Regions from separate parts of the Homo sapiens genome. Here all the other regions are reported to be linked to region 2. The links are microRNA targets in miRTarBase. Many come from high-throughput screens and were not tested one by one. Region 2 holds a microRNA gene; each other region holds the end of a gene's coding sequence.
Evidence for each region. Region 2 holds the annotated microRNA hsa-miR-5094 (AAUCAGUGAAUGCCUUGAACCU, at 1,800-1,821, opposite strand). A microRNA usually pairs through its seed, bases 2 to 8, with sites in the 3' UTR of a target mRNA and lowers its output. Matches are read on the target gene's strand: a 7mer-m8 pairs with bases 2 to 8, a 7mer-A1 pairs with bases 2 to 7 and ends in A, and an 8mer does both.

Region 1: miRTarBase lists NAPG as a target of hsa-miR-5094. Seed matches in the 3' UTR shown: 7mer-A1 at 857-863.
Region 3: miRTarBase lists VPS4B as a target of hsa-miR-5094. Seed matches in the 3' UTR shown: 7mer-A1 at 1,388-1,394.

Annotation. Positions count from the first base shown.
Region 1 is chr18:10,549,779-10,552,778 of GRCh38, forward strand. NAPG (NSF attachment protein gamma) reads left to right here. Exons shown (of 12, transcript NM_003826.3): 12 at 299-2,986. The coding sequence ends at 442. Among named protein-coding and RNA genes, the nearest start is that of NAPG, 25 kb to the left of the region's middle.
Region 2 is chr15:89,848,891-89,852,042 of GRCh38, forward strand. MIR5094 (microRNA 5094) reads right to left here and starts at 1,831; the gene lies at 1,747-1,831. All of the region lies in intron 8 of ARPIN-AP3S2 (ARPIN-AP3S2 readthrough), which reads right to left. The region is part of intron 4 of AP3S2 (adaptor related protein complex 3 subunit sigma 2); the gene reads right to left. RefSeq lists enhancers at 1-515, 2,827-2,876.
Region 3 is chr18:63,388,408-63,391,407 of GRCh38, reverse strand. VPS4B (vacuolar protein sorting 4 homolog B) reads left to right here. Exons shown (of 11, transcript NM_004869.4): 11 at 332-2,218. The coding sequence ends at 433. Among named protein-coding and RNA genes, the nearest start is that of KDSR-DT, 23 kb to the right of the region's middle.

The sequences.
Region 1 (3,000 bases), not on the chromosome of region 2:
TGATATATGTAGATAATTTTTTTTCTAAATAACGTCTTACATAGGTTTTGAAAATATATATATTTCTAAAGTTTTAATTAAAAAAAATTTATAATTGAAACTTTTACTAGTTGTGTACCTGTCCCACCATGGTCATGAGGCATCTGGGGAGCAGCATTGTTGGGCTTTGTTTTTCCATCTGAATGGTAGAATTGGTGTTCCTGAGGGTGGGGAGCCAGGCTGTGTCTTTTTAGAGCTGAGTAAAACATGTTAGGATTCTAGTTATCCAGCTTTTAAGAACATGTTCTGTTGTTGACAGTATGCTAAGCTGGGCCTGAGTTTGGTGGTTCCAGGAGGGGGAATCAAGAAGAAATCACCTGCAACACCACAGGCCAAGCCTGATGGTGTCACTGCCACGGCTGCTGATGAAGAGGAAGATGAATACTCAGGAGGACTATGCTAGTATTTTGCTTGCTGAAAAGAAAAGGGAAACAAAGGTAAAATCCTGACATGCCATTTCAAGGACTTGGGAATAGATTAGGGATATCCGTACTTCATTACAGTCATGATTTTGGATCCTAATAAAGACTAGTTTTTAGTTACCATCTTCCCAAATCACTCATTGTATCCATTACCTGTGAAGCATATCTTTTTCTTTCCATAAGAGCTTTTCTAAGACACCAGCAGGAATTAACAGAAAATGTACTGTCATGTTTTAATACATTGATTAAAAAATTTGCAAGCCAAATTATACATAAATTATGTTCTAAACAAAAGGGGTAATAAGCATAGGTATTCTCTCTTGGACACTTGTAAGTTACTGTTAGTGAATTGTTTTTTACGTTTCATTTAATAATTGCTGCTAAAGGTGATGTTTACTGATAAATCATTTTAAAATTTTTTTGTTTTGAAAAGTAAATTTATCCCCCATGATGTTAGATACATTTAAATTATTAAGTCTTTTCAGAGATGAGATGGGGACAGGAAGTTATTTTGAGCCTTACAATATTATTTAGCCCAATAAAAGATGCATTGAAGCTCTTATATATTATGAGTTTGAAAAATTTTGAAGGTAGCATATTGAAGTGATCTATAAATATCTTCAGTCCTCTCTGAAGTGTGGGTATTTCTTCTATCTAAAAAATACATACAGTGACTGTCTTCAAATCTACTTGGTTCTTGACCAAATAGGAGCTAATGGGTAATGAATACCTTTTTGTTTGTTTGTTTGTTTGTTTTGTTTTTTGTTTTTTTTTTTAAGGGTCTCACTCTTTTGCCCAGGCTGGAGTGCAGTGGCACAATCACGGCTCCCAGGCTAATGTTTTTATTTTTAATTTGTAATTTTTTTTTTATTTTTTTTGTTGAGATGGAGTTGCTCCATGTTGCACAGGCTGTTCTCAAACTCCTAAGCTCAAGCCATCTGCCTGCCTTGGCCTCCCAAAGTGCTGGGATTGTAGACATAAGCCACCTCACCCAGCCTATGAATATCTTTCTAACATTGTAAGAATGAGGTAATGTTTCCATCAGTCTAATACAGATATATTTCTTCCCTCCAAAACAGTTTATTTTGATTGTTTATTTTATTTTGATTGTAACTCCGTCATAACTTGACATGGAAAATGCTATATACTATGAAAACTTAGCTGAAAGGGAAGAATTGTTTTAGAAAGACAATATTTAAAACACCGCACTGCCAATATATTGATCCTTTATAGTTATTTCCTAAAATGCTGTTTTCGAAACATTCCTTTTTCACCCTGTTGTGTGGCTTAGACCCATCTCGTAATCTGTTAATTGGAAAGAGGCTACAGACACCAGCAGTGTGCGTTCTGCAGGTACACGCTGCCAAAGTAATTCCTGCTCATCCATGCCCTGTCTCTGTCTCTTTTAGAGTCATACCTTATTTGAGTATAGGTTGCTTAATTTTGCTAGACTTCCTGAAAACACTAAGGTGGAGTATCAGAAGTGATTTTAGTCACAGTTCTGCGGGAGAGCTTAGAATAACATCCTCCTTTGGGAGGTGGTCTCGGGTGCGTGGATGTTGGTATACAGTCTTTATTGTAAGTCTGATACAAAATGCTAATAAATTTAATGTTTTTCTTCCTTAATTTATTGGCATAGTTCTTCAGGTAGCACCTCATTTTTATTAATGATATTGGGATTAACTATGAACAAGCTATATGTAGACATTTGCATTTAAGGACATTGCAGTGTTTCAAAGATCCCATCATTGCAGCTTGTATCCTTTAGATCCAATCGGAAACTTCTGGAGTCTTACATTAATGCTCATTTGAGCTAATTAGTAATCTGTTTAAACAGATTTGGCAATACTTTAAAGATACTGTAGACTATTTATGTATAGATAGATCATATTACCCATTAAAGTCTGGGGGAAAAAATTTTTTAATTTTACTCTTCTTATGTACTGAAAACTTTTTTTAAAAAAGGTGATGATGAAGTGCATTCTGTAGCAGCAGCGCAGCTATGCTTTAAACCACACAAAAGGCTGTGTCCAGGTGCAGCCTCCTTCACCCTTCCTGCCCACGGTGAGGATTGAATAACCAGGACTTGGGGATATTGTTTGTTGTCAGGGTTATTCTGTGTGGTAAGGAATATTTGTTTCACATTTATACATTTTCTTTTTCCACTCACGTAAGTTTCTATCTTGAGAGCATAGTCCAAAGTGCAAAACTTGGTGTTTACAAGGAAAATTGTCTTCCAGAACTCCACTGTCATCACTTTCACCAAAGTGGAAGTTTGCATGAATATGCTCAGAATCTAATATTCAATGTTCTGTTACATTGTAAGTGAAGTCCAGCTACAAAATAGATTTAATATATTGAATTTATTTGTACATATGCAGAGTACGGTATTTCTGTATGGAATCTGCTTTATTCCTATTTTTCCCAACTCTGATGAGTAGAATATTAAATGTGTTGTTATGGAAATACAGATTATTGCTTCTATAGGAAGATAATTATGAAAATAAAACCTGAAACTATATAAATATAATTGTTCTTT
Region 2 (3,152 bases):
GAAAAGAGGAAGAAGATATCTTTATGAGTAGTATTGAGGACCTGGTACATATGCCTTTTTCTCTCTTACTCGTACTTTCATTCCAAAGTCCAATGTTTTATCGGTGTTTTAAGACAAGCAAAGGACTGACTATCCTCATTCCCTTGCATCTCTTTTACCTAAAAATGAACATATGGTAATTAGACTCAATGACTGTTGGCTGGATGTCTATGTAGGTGTAACTACAGTGAACAACATGGAACACATTAACAAGTACCAGGCATACTTGACTTCATTGAAAAGTTGACTTCTAGCTAGGGAGACAAAACAATATGCATGAAAGAGACATTAAATCACCATTAAATCATTTTAACAGAAAACTTTAAAAGCGTATTACACACTCCCATGACTTCTAAAAAAGAATATTCTAAATGTAATTGGGCTTTTTTTGGGGGGAGTGCTTTTTTTGCAGCTCATTGTTAATATCTAAGTAATGAATTGTATTTTTTTTTCTTTAGATGGAGTCTCACTCTGTCGCTCAGGCTGGAGTGCAGTGGCACGATCTAGGCTTACTGCAACCTCCACCTCCCAGGTCCAAGTGATTCTCTTGCCTCAGATTCCTGGGTAGCTGGAACTACAGGCGCCCACCACCACGCCCGGCTAATTTTTTGTATTTTTAGTAGAGACGGGGGTTTCACTATGTTAGCCAGGATGGTCTCGATCTCCTGACCTAGTGATCTGCCCACCTTGGCCTCCCAAAGTGCTGGGATTACAGGCATGAGCCACTGCGCCCAGCCTATGAATTGTACTTTTTTAAAAAAAAATTATACTTTAAGTTCTGGGGTACATGTGCAGAACATGCAGGTTTTTACATAGCTATACACGTGCCATGGTGGTTTGTTGCACCCATCAACTGGTCATCTACATTAGGTATTTCTCCTAATGCTACCCTTCTCCTAGCCCCCTACCCCCGAGAGGTGCTGTTGTGTGATGGTCCCCTCCCTGTGCCCATGTGTTCTCATTGTTCAACTGCCATTTATGAGTGAAAACATGTCGTGTTTGGTTTTCTGTTCTTGTGTTAGTTTGCTGAGAATGGTGGTTTCCAGCTTTATCCATGTCCCTGCAAAGGACATGAACTCATCCTTTTTTTATGGCTGCATAGTATTTCATGGTAAATTGTATTTTAATGCTAAGATTCCTTCAGGAACTCTCAGGCACATAGAGCTGTCTGGTCCTAAGCAGCTCTGAAGAAAGCAAGCCAAGAAAGCAACTTTGCTTTGTAAAGTTCTGTTTTTCCCTTTCACCTGCTCTTAGTGTCTTCTGAATCACTTTTATGAACTGTTTGATCTTCAGACTGGACATTTCCATGGTTTTCCCTAGATGTCTTCTTGTCATAAAATTCCACAAGACATTCAATCCCTAGCCATTGATTTCTTTCTCTCTTTCACTCACAGGATCATACATTGTTTCAGTGGGCAATGAATGAATCCAGTGGAGCCTTGTCTTACACATCAGATGAAACGGCTGGCTGGTTTAGGGGCCACAGAGATTGAAAATTTGTTTTAAGCATTAGAATCACTCTAAGCACTCTACGATACACATGAGCACAGGCACATGAGAGCAGAGGCAAAGAAGAGCAGATTCAAATCTTCCATGTCACACTCATTCCAGACATATACTAATTAAGTAGAATTGAGGGCATATTCGTACTGTATTTAGAATTTTTCATTTCCTTTTTGTTTTTGGACAAATGGATAGAGTTGAACAAGTTGAATGTTTCAGTGAGCCCACTGTACCTACCACATAAAAGGCAGTGTGTTAGGTTCAAGGCATTCACTGATTTTTTTCTTTTTTTTTTTTGAGACAGGGTCTTGCTCTGTCACTATCACTCAAGCTGCAGAGCAGAGGCGTGATCATGGCTCACTGCAGCCATGGCCTCCCAGGCTCAAGTGATCCCACCTCAGCCTCCAGAGTAGCTGGGACCACAGACCTGCATCACCACACCCAGCTAATTTTTGTATTTTTTGTAGAGACAGGGTTTCACCATGTTACCCAGGCTGATCTCAAACTCCTGGGCTCAAGCAATCCTTCTGTTTCAACCTCCCAGAGTGCTGGGATTACAGCACCTGGCCGATTTTTCACTAAAAGAACATAATCTCTAACAATGTCTATTTTCAAATATGCTTAACATCACAGATTGTTAAGAGCTGGAAGAAGGAAATGAAGATAAGATGTGGACCCTGTCCTTAAAGAGCTTAGAATCAAGTAAGAAAGATTAAACATGTACAGAATTAACTATAATAAAAGGAAGTCTGTGATAAATACCATGACCCAAGTACAAAGTACTATGTTATTTCAGAGAAGGGTGGCCTTAAAACTAACTGGCAATTGGAGGAAAAGGCATCCAGGCAGAGGGAATGGCAAATTACCTAGCAACTCATTCATTATTCTTCATGCTCTACTAATTCATCTTCTTTTTTTTTTTTTGAGACAGAGTCTTGCTCTGTCCCCCAGGCTGGAGTGCAGTGGTGCGATCTCAGCTCACTGCAACCTCCGCCTCCTGCGTTCAAGCAATTCTCCTGCCTCAGCCTCCTGAGTAACTATGATTACAGGCATGTGCCACCACGCCTGGCTAATTTTTCTATTTTTAGTAGAGATAGGGTTTCACTATGTTGGCCAGGCTGATCTTGAACTCCTGACCTTGTGATCTGCCCAACTCGGCCTCCCAAAGTGCTGGGATTACAGGCATGAGCCACCGCGCCCAACTCAACTTCTTTTTTAATTAATAAAAGGATCACTCACTCACTGGCTTCATATTTTATGCTCTTTGAATATATATAGTTGACTGCAGTAAAGTATACTCACTACATATTATTACTTCCTTTTTTAAAAAAACCAGTTCCTATTATGAGTCAGGGTTCTCCGTGAAATCATTTTTTTTTTTTTTAATGTTCTAGCAGGACTTTTTCTTTCTAACCCAGTGTTTCATCCTCCTTTGGCTACTACCTGTTTGCACTGCTGATCCCAAATGCCAAGCACAGTGCTAAGTACAGAAAAAGATCCAGACCTTGTCCTTTTGAATTTCATCCTTCCTTGGTTGCTTATCTGCTAAGAAAACATGACACAAACACATTTCCCCACATTTAGGATGTCAAAGCAGGCGGGAATACTAC
Region 3 (3,000 bases), not on the chromosome of region 2:
AAAATACAAAAATTAGCCAGGTGTGGTTTCAGGTGCCTGTAATCCCAGCTACTTGGGAGGCTGAGGCAGGAGAATCTCTTGAACCTGGGAGGCAGAGGTTGCAATGAGCCAAGATCACGCCACTGCGCTCCAGCCTGAGCCAACAGAGTGAGACTCCAACTCAAAAAAAAAAAAAAAGAATAGGGAGTTTATCGTTAGTATCTTATGGCAGACTGCAAATATTCATATTTAAACTTAGGTTAAAGTTCATAGCAATAATGATAATATGACGGTTTTTTATTTTGTTAACTCTATTATTAATATCCTCCCTACCCTTCTTTTTCCCTGACAGTCGGATATGTTGCGGTCACTATCTAACACAAAACCTACAGTCAATGAACATGACTTGTTGAAATTAAAGAAGTTTACAGAAGATTTTGGTCAAGAAGGCTAAGCCAAAGACAAGGAAGATGCTTACCATATGTATTCTTTCTTTCATAGATATTTTTGTCTATTTGGATCGCATTAATTGTTTCCAGTAAAACTCTTTTACCACAGGGAAATACACATCTCACTTCAGAGTTCCATTAGGTTTTATATTGTACTTTTCCTCCATTACTTATTAAATACTCCTATTAACAAAAGGTACAAAATAACAGGTTATGAGGAAATGAGCGATATATGAACGGCATAAAAACAGAAATTACCCAGTAAAAAGGATGTCAGAAATTGACATACAAATATTTACAATTTTTATGAATGGTGGTCTTTGCAAAGAGCATTTATATTTTCTTTTTTTTTTACTAAAATGATATAGGGTTTATTTTATATTTTCAAAAAAATTGTTAAACATCATTCTTATCAATGTAAAATTTACGTTATTAAAAAATTACAAATGATAGAATCTTTACTCAGGGATGGGCAATAAAACAGCAAAGAGCTTTGTGATTGGGTTTGAAAGATTTTGAATTATAGACAGTGCTCTTAATAGTTTTTAATAAGTTGATATTTTTTTCTGTGTAGATTTAAATAATTTCTTTAAAAGCGTAAGCTTTGGCTGGGCATGGTGGCTTATGCCTGTAATCCCAGCACTTTGGGAGGCTACGATGGGTGGATCACCTGAGGTCAGGAGTTCAAGACCAGTCTGGCCAACATGGTGAAATGCCGTCTCTACTAAAAATACAAAAATTAGCTGGGCATGATGGCGAGTGTCTGTAATCCCAGCTACTCAGGAGGCTGAGGCGGGAGAATCACTTGAACCTGGGAGGCAGAGGTTGCAGTGAGCTGAGATCGCGCTACTGCATTCCAGCCTGGGCGCCGAGATAGCGCCATTGCACTCCAGCCTGGGCGACTGAATAAAACTCTGTCTCAAAAAAAAACAAAAACGGTAAGCTTTTATATTTAATTAACTGATACCTTTCACTGTGCAATCTCAAGAGGAAGATTTTCTAAATTAGACATTGTCTTTACCTTAAAGAAGAAAATTGTCTATTTCAGTGTCTTTTTTAGCAAGATTGACCAAAACAGGTGGTAGGTGTGTAATTTTTAACTGTCATGAAATACTGTAATGCGCACCTTTGCTAATAAGGAAATGGTCTCCCTTTGAATTATGGGAAGTTTCTTGTCTGTGATATGGGGTGTCTGTGTACATATATGTATATTTCCTTTTTTAATACAGGATAATAATATGGGGTCTTGTCCTTCACCTTTTAAGTTCAGGGAACAGTTTGTCCTGACCACACATATGTTATCAGTGTAATGCTTTATGAAGCTTTAGAAATGAGCTCATGACTCATTAAAAAATAATAAACGATGCTATTTTAATATTTTCAAATAAATAATCTGAGGATGTGTTTCATACTTTAGCATCAACGCTGAGTTGTGCCTTGTAGAATTGCATTGTCTATACATGCAAAAGACTATTAAGTTAGGATGAACTAGATTCCCTAATTACAGTGAAATTCTATCTTGCAAATGCTATAGAATAACTTGCATTTTAAAGTGTATTTGCACATTTTACATATGCTATGTGGTTGCCTTTGGGTTTTCTGTACAGATTGTTTTTGTTATTAAATGGAAAAGGCCTGAATTATGCTCTTATGTGAAGTAAATTGATATAACCTATTGACTGTATTCTGTGTATTATTCTTTATTTTGGGACCTTCTGTGTAAAAGAAAATATTACCTAAATTGGTTAGATACAAAGAAATCATTAAAATTATTAATGTATATATGAAAATTCTGTTTTTCAATGACTTTTATGTGAGGATTGAGAACTAACTTAGTAAACTAACACTGAATTCTTTGTGGATAAGATAATTTATACATCTTACCTGTTTATCAGCCTCAGAATTATACAGTACTGCTGTGTGTTCTTTATGGACAGATACTCAAAGGAATCCGAATGGGCATGTTCTATTTCTCTGGCTCTTGACCAGTAATTATAAAGTTTAGGTAGACATTTTCTGAGCCAGCAAGTAGATCATAGTTGTTAAGCATCTCTATGACTTACACCCTGGATATTTGAAAGCATTTTGTCTCACCCTGAGAAATCTATAAGGACTCTATAATTATAAAACATGTCAATAGAGAATTGACTTCTGAGTCCACTGTCAACTACATGCAGAAAAACAGAATGAGTGTACTTGATTAGTGCCACAGAAGCACCATTTAGCCACTTTCAGAGTTGATAAAGAGGCATACCTACCTGATGGTGCTGTATGTTGCAAGTGAAGCAACACAGTGCCCATTGTTGACACTAATGTTATTTTAAGTTTGTGAGTTTTCACAGGTGCCCTTTTCTTTCCTACTTTCATCCCTTCATTTGTATCCTCCTCTTATTTTAATATGGTATCTTTCTTTTTTTTGCTAGTCCACATCACGTATTTCCATTAAAACCTAATGATGATGAACCATGTAACCTCTTGCAGGAAGACCACCCAAACTACCCCCACCCTACTTTTGGGTTTCTTTAGCAGTTAAATTGCTGCTGCTGCTGTGTTAAGATTTTTCTCTGGAGCA